Linked DNA regions of Homo sapiens: regions 2 and 3 are each linked to region 1. The links come from fine-mapping of genetic effects on gene expression. A gene starts in region 1. Each other region holds a variant in brackets. All regions are shown on one strand. Distances are from middle to middle. Region 1 holds the start of GMIP (GEM interacting protein). Region 2 overlaps LPAR2 (lysophosphatidic acid receptor 2). Region 3 overlaps PBX4 (PBX homeobox 4).

Evidence for each region. PIP is the estimated chance that this variant, and not a neighbour inherited with it, causes the effect. A credible set is the group of variants that fine-mapping cannot tell apart.
Region 2: its variant is the best candidate, but not a certain one, in a credible set for the expression of GMIP in whole blood (INTERVAL, PIP 0.75).
Region 3: its variant is the best candidate, but not a certain one, in a credible set for the expression of GMIP in whole blood (INTERVAL, PIP 0.84).

Annotation. Positions count from the first base shown.
Region 1 is chr19:19,641,565-19,645,735 of GRCh38, forward strand. It overlaps GMIP (GEM interacting protein), which reads right to left and starts at 2,093. Exons shown (of 21, transcript NM_016573.4): 1 at 1,947-2,093; 2 at 971-1,055; 3 at 412-487; 4 at 246-303. The coding sequence starts at 1,965. It overlaps ATP13A1 (ATPase 13A1), which reads right to left. Exons shown (of 26, transcript NM_020410.3): 25 at 4,083-4,171; 26 at 3,634-3,968. The coding sequence ends at 3,858. RefSeq lists enhancers at 970-1,925, 1,147-1,306 and a silencer at 1,937-2,186.
Region 2 is chr19:19,620,902-19,625,072 of GRCh38, forward strand. It overlaps LPAR2 (lysophosphatidic acid receptor 2), which reads right to left. Exons shown (of 3, transcript NM_001395660.1): 3 at 2,754-3,668. The coding sequence ends at 3,355. Among named protein-coding and RNA genes, the nearest start is that of PBX4, 4.3 kb to the left of the region's middle. RefSeq lists a silencer at 2,799-3,093. The variant T/C (reference allele first, on the strand shown) is at 2,167.
Region 3 is chr19:19,602,841-19,607,011 of GRCh38, forward strand. The region is part of intron 1 of PBX4 (PBX homeobox 4); the gene reads right to left. Among named protein-coding and RNA genes, the nearest start is that of PBX4, 14 kb to the right of the region's middle. The variant T/C (reference allele first, on the strand shown) is at 2,145.

The DNA.
Region 1 (4,171 bases):
TTTGGTAGGGATGGTGTCTTACTGTTGCCCAGCATGGTCACGAATTCCTGGCTTCAAGTGATCCTCCTACCTCAGCCTCCACCCTGCCTGGGGTCTCCCTGAGGGCTGGGACTGAGATCTGTTGTGTGTACTGCCATATTCCCAAAACCTAAACGATGCCTTGCATGGAACAGGGGATCAGTGGTGATTTGTTGAAGGAAAGACTCCTGTCTGTCCCCACTGTCCTGGCCTCCAGACCCCCCTACCTGTGAGGGGTACAGGACCCTCTGGGGAGGGGCCGCTCCAACAGCTGGCTTCGTTGGTCTGTGCGGGAGGGAGACAGTATTCAGAAGCAAACAGGGCAGGGGCCTGGCCTTCCTAAGGCCCCCTCTGCTTGAGGTCTTCCTCCCTGTTCCCCTACTCCCCACTCACAACAGTGGCTGTAGGGGTCTTGTCAGGTTCTGGGTCTTCTGAGAGTAGAGGGTCTCCAGCCAGCATCTCAAGGGTCCTGGGGGATAAAGGTGTGTCAGGATGCCACCTTACACCCAGTCTGTCCTGCCAAGGGGTGCTGGGGACCTTAGGGTTGTTTGTGGCAAACATCACCTCTGTGGCATCTCTTGTGTCTGGGAGGTCTGAAGAATGGTGTTTTGGGGGAATCAGGTGAGTTTTTTTTAAATAGGACTTGAAAAAGCATCTGAAGGGCCCCAGATAACTTTGAGGTTCATAGAGTGGGATTATAGGGATCGCAAATATTTTAAGGGGTTACAAGGATATGTAGGGGTTCTAGGACCACTTTGGGGATTTCCAGTCTATTTAGGGGGACACTTTTAGGATACCGAGGCATTTTGGAGGGTCCCATCCTAGACTTCTCTGGTTATTAGGTATGTAGGTCCAGATGTTACAGGTTCCAAATGGGACTGCAAGGCACCTAAATGGTTAGGGGCTTGGGGCATCTTGGCAGGATTTGGGGGTGATCCAGGCTCAGACTCACACGTTCCCCAGTGAGATTTCGAGGTTGTCCAGGCTCCGGAAGATGTCACTGTACCTCTTCCTGCCCTCAGGACCTGGGGGGAGTCCTAGGGGAGGGGAGTGTAATACATGGGCTAACCACTGCCTCCCTCCACCCACGGCACCTCAACCAGTCTCATTTGGAGGGGGTGGAAGAGAAAGGGAAGAGTGAGAGAGAGAAAGAGAGGGCTGGGGGGGGCTTGGTTGGGGCCAACTCGAGGCAGGCAGATGGACTCACACACCACCAGAGACCAGAGACAGCTGCTCGGGGAACAGAGACACCCACTCCCTGGGTCTGCCTGCACCCAGAAGCAAACCAACAAAACAGATGCCCCAGATGCAACCAGGCTGTCCCGAGAAGAAAGCCGGTCTGACAATGGAACCACGGGCTAGACAGATGGAAATACACAAGGGACAGCCAGGCAGAGCCTGGGGCAGAAACACACATGGAGAGACTGAAGCCGTGAGGGACATAAAGACCGAATGACACTCCACATACACAACACAGACACAAAGACGGCCGGAAACACCAAGTCGGACCCCGCCACATTTCTACTGCTGCCCCCCTGCCCCCTCTCCTAAGGGGCCTAGACCAGCACTGCCGACTCCCCAGGGCTACAGAGGGGCCCTGTGGGGATCCTACCGCGTTGCCCTCTCCCTCAGCAGTCGTGGCACCCTGCCCCCATCACAAAAATCAGAAGCAGAAGCAGTCACTTCCCCTTCCTGGGCCCCCTCCCCCAGGCGTCTGGGGTGAGGGATCAAAAGGGGGAGGGGGAGTGAAGGGCTGGGGTCCTGAACCCATCCGGGCACAGGGCTCCCCACAATGGAGGATCCCTGGGTCCTTCCCATTCAGGAACTCCTCTCCTGGCTCTCAGGACGGAGCGGGACAAGTGTGTGCCCTCAATGTAGGAAGCAGGGGATGGTCGGGGGAGGCCCCTCCCGGATCCCCGACCCCCTACCCGGCTCTGCTGCGTCCATATCTGGGCCCGGGGATCGCTCTGCAGGGACCGGGATGGGGATGGGGTCGCGCGCCGGCGGGGCCGAGCCCCGATTTCCTGCCGCCGCAGCCGCCGCCGCCGCCTCGGTTCCGCGTCGCCCTGCCCAGCGGAGGCCACGCCCCCGCATCAGACCACGCCCCCGTAGCCCGGAAGCCTTGATAGTGCCCTTCTCTACCTGAGCCGCTTGAAACTGGGTCGGGCCAGGGCCCCCTGAGCGACCACTCGAGGCTGCAGTGCCCCTGACCTGGGCATCCTAAGACTTCATCTGGGCCATAGGTTCCCTCTCAGATCTTTGTGCTACCCCAAATCCCACGGAGCCCCAGCCCCCTCCTCCCTGAATGGTTGCAGAGTCCACCTGTCCCGGGGGGCCTCTCCCAGGAGCTCCCACAACCCGCGACCCTGGTGATCCCCTTGCCCAGGTTGTCTCTCGGAGCCCTGAAACCACCTGGGCCTCGCTGGAGCCATGGCGCCCCCTGGTGGAGGCCTGATATTCTGTCCGATTCCAACCAAAATTCTAATACTCGGGCTGGAGAACCCCTGGCCTGGGGGACGCCCCTTCCGTGACCCTCAAAGCTGGATCAGGCTCAAGGCCCCAATTACAGCACACCAGGGAGCAGCCCTTTTAGGTAGGGAGTGGAGGTTTGTCCAAAAGCACCAGCTCTGGGGTTGCCACAAGCCGCCTGTTATAAAAATGCTCCCACCCCCAGCACAGTGGAATTTTGGGGCTGGAAATAGACTTTAAAGTATGTTTATAACTTTGTGTCCAAAGGCTTTGGCTGTTAAGGAGGCAAGGATTCTCTGACTGGCTCCGTGCTGCCTACTCTGCAGTTCTTGAGTTGTGATGAGTGAGTCCATTGAAAGGAATAACACTATCAACCTAAGAGCCAAGCCAGGTTTCCAGGTCACATCCTGGCTGATGCTCAGCCAGAGCTCCCTGACTGTGACATGAGATGGTAGAGCAGCGCAGGCCCCCAAAGAGCATGACAGAGTCAGTACTTGTTTGTTTTTCTTTTGAGTTGGAGTCTCGCTCTGTTGCCCAGGCTGGAGTGCAGTGGCGTTATCTCGGCTCACTGCAAGCTCCACCTCCTGGGTTCACGCCATTCTCCTGCCTCAGCCTCCCGAGTAACTGGGACTACAGGCACTCGCCACCATGCCTGGCTAATTTTTTGTATTTTTAGTAGAGATGGGGTTTCACTGTGTTAGCCAGGATGGTCTCGATCTCCTGACCTTGTGATGGGCCCGCCTTGGCCTCCCAAAGTGCTGGGATTACAGGCTTGAGCCACCGGACAGAGTCAATACTTGTAATGATGCAGATCATATTCCTCAAGTCTCAGACACCACCCGAGAGAAAGGCATGCTGTTATGTATTATGGGAAAGAAAAAAATATCACACATCCTAAGGCTTCTCTCAGCACCTGAGTTGTTAAAATGTGAAAGAGACCTCAGAAATATGGGGGTGCTTGTTAAACTAGAAAATATGCACTGAATTCTCTGGGCAGGGACAAGTCCATGTTCAAGTGCTGAAAGTGCCAGAGGGTTTCACCAACATCACACGCCTGTGGGGAGGGTGCTGGGACCTTCCTCAGTGACCCTCTGTCCCCGAGCCCCCAGCAAACACCGTGTGGCACAGACGAGGTGGAGGCAGGGCTTTTTAAAATCTCAGATGCTGCTTTATTTACCAAAGGTGCTGGCTTGGGGCTGGTTCTGCTGGCCAAGCCAGCGGATGGCTGTGGGGGTCCCAGCTCAGTCTTCCAAGGGCGAGACTGTACAGCCTTGCTGTGGGGGGTTGGGGGCAGGGTTCCCTCCCGGGGCCCTGTTGGGGTTCCCGCCCAGCGGCAGCCAGGGTGGGCAGTGGGTACCAGCACTGCCATCTCAGGAAGGCACTTTCAGCTTCGGGGTCCCCAGGAAGAACTGCAGGACGCGGTCGGCCAGGAGCGCCAGGCAGAAGTCCAGGAGCAGGACCTGGGCAATGACCAGCTTGAACTGTCGGGGCAGGGAGGGATGGTGAGCTGGAGACCTGCAGCCCAGCTCAGGGTCACTGCCATAGGAGGGACCCATCAAGCTGAGCCCCAGGGTCACCTCCACAGGGCCACTGACCTCCACAGGGATGTCCACGAGGCCAAACTGGCTGTTGAAGTCGGGCGAGGAGCCGAGGAGCAGGCCAATGATGGCCAGGAGTGAAACTG
Region 2 (4,171 bases), 21 kb before region 1:
GGGTTCAAGCACTTCTCCTGCCTTAGCCTCCTCCTGAGTAGCTTACAGGCACCCACCACCACGCCCGGCTAATTTTTGCATTTTTAGTAGAAATGAGGTTTCACCATGTTGGCCAGGCTAGTTTCAAACTTCTGACCTCAGGTGATCTGCCTGCCTCGGCCGCCCAAAGTGCTGGGATTACAGGTATGAGCCACCTCACCCGTCCCACTGTTGCCATTTGGAGGTCATCAGGGGTCTCTACTGCATAGAAATTAGTTGGCAGCCTTGGCACTCAAAGTGCTCGGCCAGGGCCATTTAATATAGAAGGACCTGGGAGTTTTGGGTTCTTTGACAATGCATATTTCAGTGGTTTAAGAATTTGGCACAGGTGGCTGGGCATGGCGGCTCACATCTCTGAGTGACCTGGGTTCAAATTCTAGCTGTTATTCAGCATGGGATTCAAAAGTAGGGACATAACCCCACCTCCTCACTGGTGAGGTGGGAGCAGAGAATGACATCCTGGCACACACTGTGCCTTGGAGGGGGCCTCCCTGAGCATCTCAGAGGGGGCTCATGATGGATCTGGCACTCATGGGTTGGGTGCTGTGGGGTGAGGTAGGGAAAGCCCAGCTGAGCTTGGGACCAACCCTGGGCTTCGTGGGAATCTGAAGTCCCTTTCCTAGGGGCCTCTCTGGTCCCTCGGGGCCTGTATGTGCCATCTCCAAGCTGTGTTTACCATGGGCCAGATCACAACCTGTCTGAATCAGTGTTCTCACATAAAAATCAGAAAGACTGATCCCAGCACTTTGGGAGGCCAAAGCAGGCGGATCATGAGGTCAGGAGTTCAAGACCAGCCTGGCCAATATGGTGAAATCCCATCTCTATTAAAATACAAAAAATTAGCCAGACATGGTGGTGCATGCCTGTAGTCCCAGCTACTTGGGAGGCTGAGGCAGAAGAATCGCTTGAACCTGGAGGGGGCGGAGGTTGCAGTGAGCTGAGATCATGTGAGACTCTGTCTCAAAAAAAAAAAAAAAAAAAAAAGGCCAGGCATGGCGGCTCACGCCTATAGTCCCAGCACTTTGAGAGGCTGAGGCGGGCGGCTCACCTGAGGTCAGGAGTTCGAGACCAGCCTGGCCAACATGGTGAAACCCCATCTCTACTAAAAATAAAAAATTTAGCTGGGTGTGGTGGCATATCCCTGTAATCCCAGCTACCCGGGAGGCTGATGCAGGAGAATCACTTGAACCTGGGAGGCAGAGGTTGCAGTGAGCTGAGATCACGTCATTGCAGTCCAGCCTGGGAAACAGAGCAAGACTCCGTCTCAAAAAAAAAAAAAAAAAAAAGCCCAGCACAGTGGCTCATGCCTGTAATCCCAGCACTTTGAGAGGCCGAGGCGGGTGGATCACAAGGTCGGGAGTTCAAGATAAGCCTGGCCAAGATGGTGAAACCCCATCTCTAACAAAAATACAAAAATTAGCCGGGCACGGTGGCAGGTGCCTGTAATCGCAACTACTTGGGAGGCTGAGGCAGGAGAATCGCTTGAAACCCGGGGGCGGAGGTTGCAGCGAGCCGAGATTGCACCACTACACTCCAGCCTGGAGGACAGAGTGACACTCCATCACAAAAAAATAAAAAATTTAAAAAAAAAAGCACCTAAAGTGTTTACCAGTATGCCAGGCACATCAGAAGAGCTTGAGAAATGGTCATGCTCAAATCCTGCATCCCACTACCTGAACCCCACAACCTGTGGCTGGAAGTATGAATACAGGTGGTGGGGAATGGGATAGAAACGGCTGGGCACGTGACCTTGAACCATCAGGGCTCAAACAAAAGGGCAGTGGGGAGGGAGGGGGCTCATAGGGTCCAGACACTACTCTGAGCTGCAGAGAAAGACAGGGAGACAGGCAGTGAGATGGAGGCAGAGCAACAGATGGGGGAAACAAAGAACAGAAGCAGAGAGAAACAGATTCAAGACCCCAGTAAGAGAGAGGGGCCAGGCGTGGTGGCTCATGCCTATAATCCCAGCACTTTGGGAGGCCAAGGTGGGTAGGTGGATCGCTTGAGGTCAAGAGTTCGAGACCAGCCTGACTAACATGGTGGGACCCCATCTCTACTAAAAATATAAAGATTAGTCAGGCACGCGGTAGCTCACACCTGTAATCCCAGTACTTTGGGAAGCTGAGG[T/C]GGGTGGATCATTCAAGGTCAGGAGTTTGAGACGAGCCTGGCCAACATTGGTGAAACCTCATCTCTACTATAATACAAAAATTAGCCGAGTGTAGTGGCAGATGCCTATAACCCAGCTATTCGGGAAGCTGAGGCAGGAGAATCGCTTGAACCCAGGAGGCAGAAGTTGCAGTAACCTGAGATCAAGCCACTGCACTCCAGCCTGGGTGACAGAGCGAGACTCCCTCTCAAAGATAAACAAACAAATAAATAAATAATAAAAATAAAAATACAGAGATTAGCTGGACGTGGTGGCACGCGCCTGTAATCCCAGCTTCTCCTGAGGCACAAGAATCTGGAACCTGGGAGGTAGAAGTTGCAGCGAGCTGAGATTGTGCTACTGCTCTCCAGCCTGGGCTACAAAGTGAGACTCTGTCTAAAAAAAAAAAAAAAAAAAAAGAGAGAGATGGAATAACAGCCAGCCAGACTGAAGAAGAGCGAGCACAGGGCCAAGGAGATACCATGTTGAAAGATCCTTTCTGGACTTGGGCCAAGGTAGACAATTCCGGGACACAGGGACAGAAACACTGAATTGATAACAACAAATGTTTTGGAGACCTCAGAGTGTAAAGAAAGGTTTACTCCTTGTATCATCCCCTCCCCGTGGACTGCTTCAATTCTATCGGGGACAGGCCAGTCCCTGGAGGCTGCAAGGAGCCACAAACCTTTCCCAGCTCACACTCTGCACCCCTCAGTCTCTGCTGCTAAAGAATCAGACTCAGGTAGATGGGGTGTCCACAGTCTGTCCTCATTACCCAGTCATACCGGGTAGCATGGCCCGAGAGAGCCCTTATCTCTCCCCACCTTAAAACCCTCAGCATCACACAGCAGGAACCAGTCCACAGGGCTTACCAAGGATACGCAGTGAAAACAGAATAATGTCTGTTACAAACCCCCTAAACCTGAGATGGCTGAAGAGCCAGATTCCTGCACCCCATCTGACTCCCCCAGGCAGTGGGAGATGACCCAAAGCCCCCATTCCCTGGGCAGAGTGGTGTGCCTGGGGAGGCCTGGCAGTGGTGCTGTGCCATGCCAGACCTTGTCCTGCCAGTCAGTCAGTCCTGTTGGTTGGGTTGAGCCAGGAGCACCCACAAGTCATCAGGGGCTGTGGATTTGTTGCTTGCCGCGTACCGCTGAAGTTCAAGGTAGCTAAAGGGTGGAGTCCATCAGTGGGTGGCCGTTCTCGGGAAGCATGATGCGAGTGCTGGCACCTCCCTGGGCAGAGGATGTATAGTGGACAGACTCGCGGGTGGACTGGCGGAGGCACGCGCAGCAGAGAAGGCGGCGGAAGGTGCGGCGCATCTCAGCATCTCGGCAAGAGTACACAGCAGCATTGACCAGGGAGTTGGCCTCGGCCAACAGTAGGAAGTACTTTTCTACAGCCAGGACATTGCAGGACTCACAGCCTAAACCATCCAGGAGCAGTACCACCTGGCCTGGTGTCCAGCAGACCACGAACGCCCCTGTGGGACAGAGGCGGAAGTGAGCAGGGCAAGCTGTCAGAGGCCCGGCACCTACAGCTCTCAGTTTGGGGTTGGAGTGGTCTCCAGAGCTCGAGCAATAGTGGTGAAGTTTGCAGTGCAAGAGCTGCTTGTTTCCCTGATTCTGCAGTGTGACAGGAAGGCCTGCTAAGATGGGACATCTATGCTAATTGGTACACAGTGGCCAAGGCACTGGACATTTTGTGTGTGTGTGTGTGTGTGTGTGTGTGTGTGTGTGTGTGTGTGAGATGGAGTCTCGCTCTGTCGCCAGGCTAGAGTGCAGTGGTACAATCTTGGCTTGCTGCAACCTCTGCCTCCCAGGTTCAAGCAATTCCCCCACCTCAGCCTCCCAAGTAGCTGGGACTACAGGTGTGTGCCACCATGCCCGGCTATATTTTTTTTTTTTTGTATTTTAGTAGAGATGGGGTTTCACCATGTTGGCCAGGATGGTCTCGATCTCCTGACCTCGTGATCCGCCCGCCTCA
Region 3 (4,171 bases), 39 kb before region 1:
ATTCATATGCAAATCAACCAATCAAAAGCCCACATTCCCAATCATCTTCTTCATTTAATGCTCACACACAAAGCCAATAATTTCCCAGCCCTAAATCACCCCAGGGCCAGGTACTGACCAACTAGAGACCACTCCTCTAGCACAGAGCCTGCCAAAATTATTTAAACTATCTAACCTAAGCTTGCTCAAACTTGCCTGCCATGCCATGCCATGCCCATTCCTTCCTGAGGAAATCACTATAAAAGTTCTGGGCCGTGCTTTCCCTCTCTCCACTGTCGCCCACTGACCCAGGTGCTTCCCCATGTGGCCCTGCCTGGCATGGTGTGCCCCCTCCTCTGGAGCTGTAAGTAATAAACTTCCCTTTCAACAGGGCAGTTGTCTCCATGTGTGTCATCTTACCATACCTGATTAAAACAAATCCCGGGTACAAAGCAAGGCCAAAGGGTAAGTCAAAGGGGTTTTTTTTCTTTTTTTCTTTTTTTTCTTTTTGAGACAGAGTCTTACTCTATTGCTCAGGCTGGAGTGCAGTGGTGCAATCATGGCTCACTGCAACCTCCACCTCATGGGTTCAGGTGATTCTCCTGCGGCCTCCAGAGTAGCTGGCATTACAGGTGCCCACCACTACACACAGCTAATTTTTGTATTTTTAGTAGAGATGGGGTTTTGGCATGTTGGTCAGCCTCAGCCTCCCAAAGTGCCAGGCTTATAGGCATGAGCCACGGTGCCCAGCCTGTTGTCTTTGACTGTTCTTAAAGATAGGAGGTACTAGCACATGTTTATATGCCAAAAAGCCAGTCTAGAGAGAGAATTTGATGATGCAAGGATAGAGTAAATGGCCAGGCGCAGTGGCTCACGCCTGTAATCCCAGTACTTTGGGAGACTGATGTGGGCAGATCACTTGAAGTCAGGAGTTCGAGACCAGCCTGGCCAACATAGTGAGACAATGTCTCTGCTAAAAATACAAAAATTAGCCGGGCATGATGGCATGTGCCTGTAATCCCAGCTACTCAGGAGGATGAGGCAGGATAATTTAATTGCTTGAACCCAGGGGGTGGAGGTTGCAGTGAGCCGAGAACACGCCACTGCATCCCAGCGAGCGAGACTCCATCTCAAAAAAAAAAAAAAAAAAGAATAGGGTAGCTGGTATGTGCATGTAGCAGAACTTCTGTGAACAACTTTGATGAGTACTATGCTATTAACATTTACTATTATGATGATTTTAAATCCTATAACTCTGTCATCCAAGCGTCCATTATTAAAAGATCCATTATTAAAAGCCACAGCTGAATAATGTATCTGAAAATCAATAACTTCACAACAGAAATCAGATTTGATTAACACCATGAGAGGTTGGGCATGGTGGCTCATGCCTGTAATCCCAGCACTTTGGGAGGCTGAGATGGGGGGATCACTTGAGGTCAGGAGTTTGAGACCAGCCTGGCCAACATGGCAAAATCCTGTCTCTCCTAAAAATGCCAAAAATTTGATGGGCATGGTGGTGTACACCTGTAATCCCAACTACTTGCTGAGGCACAAGAATTACATAAATTCAGGAGGTGGAGGTTGCAGCGAGACAAGATCACATCACTGCACTCCCGTCTGGGCAACAGAGCGAGATTCCATCTCAAAAAAAAAAAAGGAATACAACTGGGGTGCAGAACTAAGATCTTTGTCTCTGAACTTCAAATATAAAATGTTTGTGGGGGATGAGATGACATATGAACTTCCCAAAATCTAACCTGAACATTAGTCTTTCTTTATTTTTAATTTTTATTTTTGAGATGGAGTCTCGCTCTGTCACCCAGGCTGGAGTGCAGTAGCGCGATCTTGGCTTACTGCAACCTCCACCTCCCAGGTTCAAGTGATTCTCCTGCCTCAGCCTCCTGAGTAGCTGGAACTATAGGCGCGTGCCACCACACTCAGCTAATTTTTTATGTTTTTAGTATAGACAGGGTTTCATGGTATTAGCCAGGATGGTCTCGATCTCCTGACCTCATGATCCACTTGCCTCGGCCTCCCAAAGTGCTGGGATCACAGGTGTGAGCCACCATGCCCGGCCATGTTAGTCTTTCTTATAAGGTATACAGTCATTGATCACACGAGATATTCAGCTTAAAATATTAAACATTTTCTTTCCATAGAAG[T/C]GGTATTAACATTAATTTAAATGGACTCTGATTATAGCTCATCTTCTGGAAATTTAACTTTTTCTCTTTAAAAAAAATATATTTTAATATAAAAATAGAAGAAACCTGGGGAACATGGTGAAACCCCAGCTCTATAAGAAATACAAAAAACTGTCAGACACAGTGGCTCACGCCTGGAATCCCAGCACTTTGAGAAGCCAAGGCAGGTGGATCACGAGGCCAAAAGATAGAGACCATCCTGGCCAACGTGGTGAAACCCCGTCTCTACTAAAAATACAAAATTCAGCTGGGCATGGTGGCGCGCACCTGTAGTCCCAGCTACTCAGGAGGCTGAGGCAGGAGAATCACTTGAGCCTGGGAGGTGGAGGCTACAGTGAGCTGAGATTGCGCCACAGCACTCCAGCCTGGTGACAGAACAAGACTCTGTCTCAAAATAATAATAATAATAATAATAATAATAATAACAATAATAATAATAATACAAAAAGTAAATTATCTGGGTTTGGTGGCACATGCCTGTAGTCCCAGCTACTAGGGAGGCTGAGGTGGGAGGATCGCTTGAACTCAGGAGATCAAGGCTGCAGTGAGCTGTGATCACACCACTGTACTCCAGCCTGGGCGACAGAGTGAGACCCTGTCTCATAAATAAATAAATAAATAAATAAAACAGAGACGGGTTCTCCCTATGTTGTCCAGACTGGTCTCAAACTCTTGGGCTCAAGTAATCCTCCCACTTTGGCCTCACAAAGTGTTAGGATTACAGGCGTGAGCCTTGTTTCTGGCCTGGAAACTTAATTTTAACAATAAGAGGAAAGAAAATGAAGTTGGCTCTTCTGCTTCTGTAAAGGCTCTAGGATTTTTTTTTTTTTTTTTTTTTTTACCAGTTTTCTCCTTATAAAATATTTTACTTTAGATACAGTAGAAAGCACTTTTTAATGCATACAAAGTAATTTCATAGTTTCTGTGGCTTACTATGAAAAGAAAACAAGTTCCCAAGCTTTGAGCATGTCTTTGAGCTAGCAGTGATCAAGCAGCTGCTGCAAATCAGTGAGGAAAAGGGGACTGACTAGTGAGACCTTCCCCAAGGGGATGAAATCACTTACTTGGCAGACACACCCTAAGGTAACCCCCAGTGAGTCATGTCCTTATATAATCCTTTTTCCTTGAGTTCAGGAAGTACCTGTGACTTGCAATGTGCCAAAGGTGATGGTATCATCTCTGCCATGGTTATGTTGTTATCTAAGACTCCACCTTAGATGACTAGAGAGTCACCCACTGGCACCAGCTGCCATGTCATGACAGCTGGTGGCAGGAACTGCAGGCAGCCTCTAAAGCTGAGAGCAGCCTCAACTGACAGCCAGGAAGAAAGCAGGGACCTTTGTGCTTCAACTGCAGGAAGTGAATTCTTCCATCAACCATGCGACACTGGGAGAGAACCCCATGCTCTGGATAGGAACATAGCCCAGCCAACACCTTGACTGCAGCCCTGTGAGACCCTAAGCAGAGGACCTAGCTAAGCTGTGCCCAGAATCCTGACCCAAGGAAACTGTGAGATAATAAATATCTGCTGTTTTAAGCTGCTAGGCTTGCGGTGATTTCTTATAAAGCAATAGAGAGTTGATAATGAGATAGACTGGAAGCCAGAGAATGGGGACCGTTGGGAGAAAAATGGGGTTGGTGCTGGTATGTCTAACAAGTATATGACACGTTATGGCTGGGTGCCGTGGCTCATGCCCGTAATCCCAGCACTTTGGGAGGCTGAAGCGGGCGGATCACCTGAGGTCAGGAGTTCAAAACCAGCCTGGCCACCAGCCTGGCCATCATGGTGAAACCCCGTCTGTACTAAAAATACAAAAATTAGCCAGGCATGGTGGCACATGCTTGTAATTCCAGCTACCTGGGAGGCTGAGGCATGACAATCACTTGAAACCAGGAGGTGAAGGTTGCAGTGAGCCAAGATCGCGCCACTGAACTCCAGGCTGGGTGACACAGCAAGACTCTGTCTCAAAACAAACAAACAAACAAAA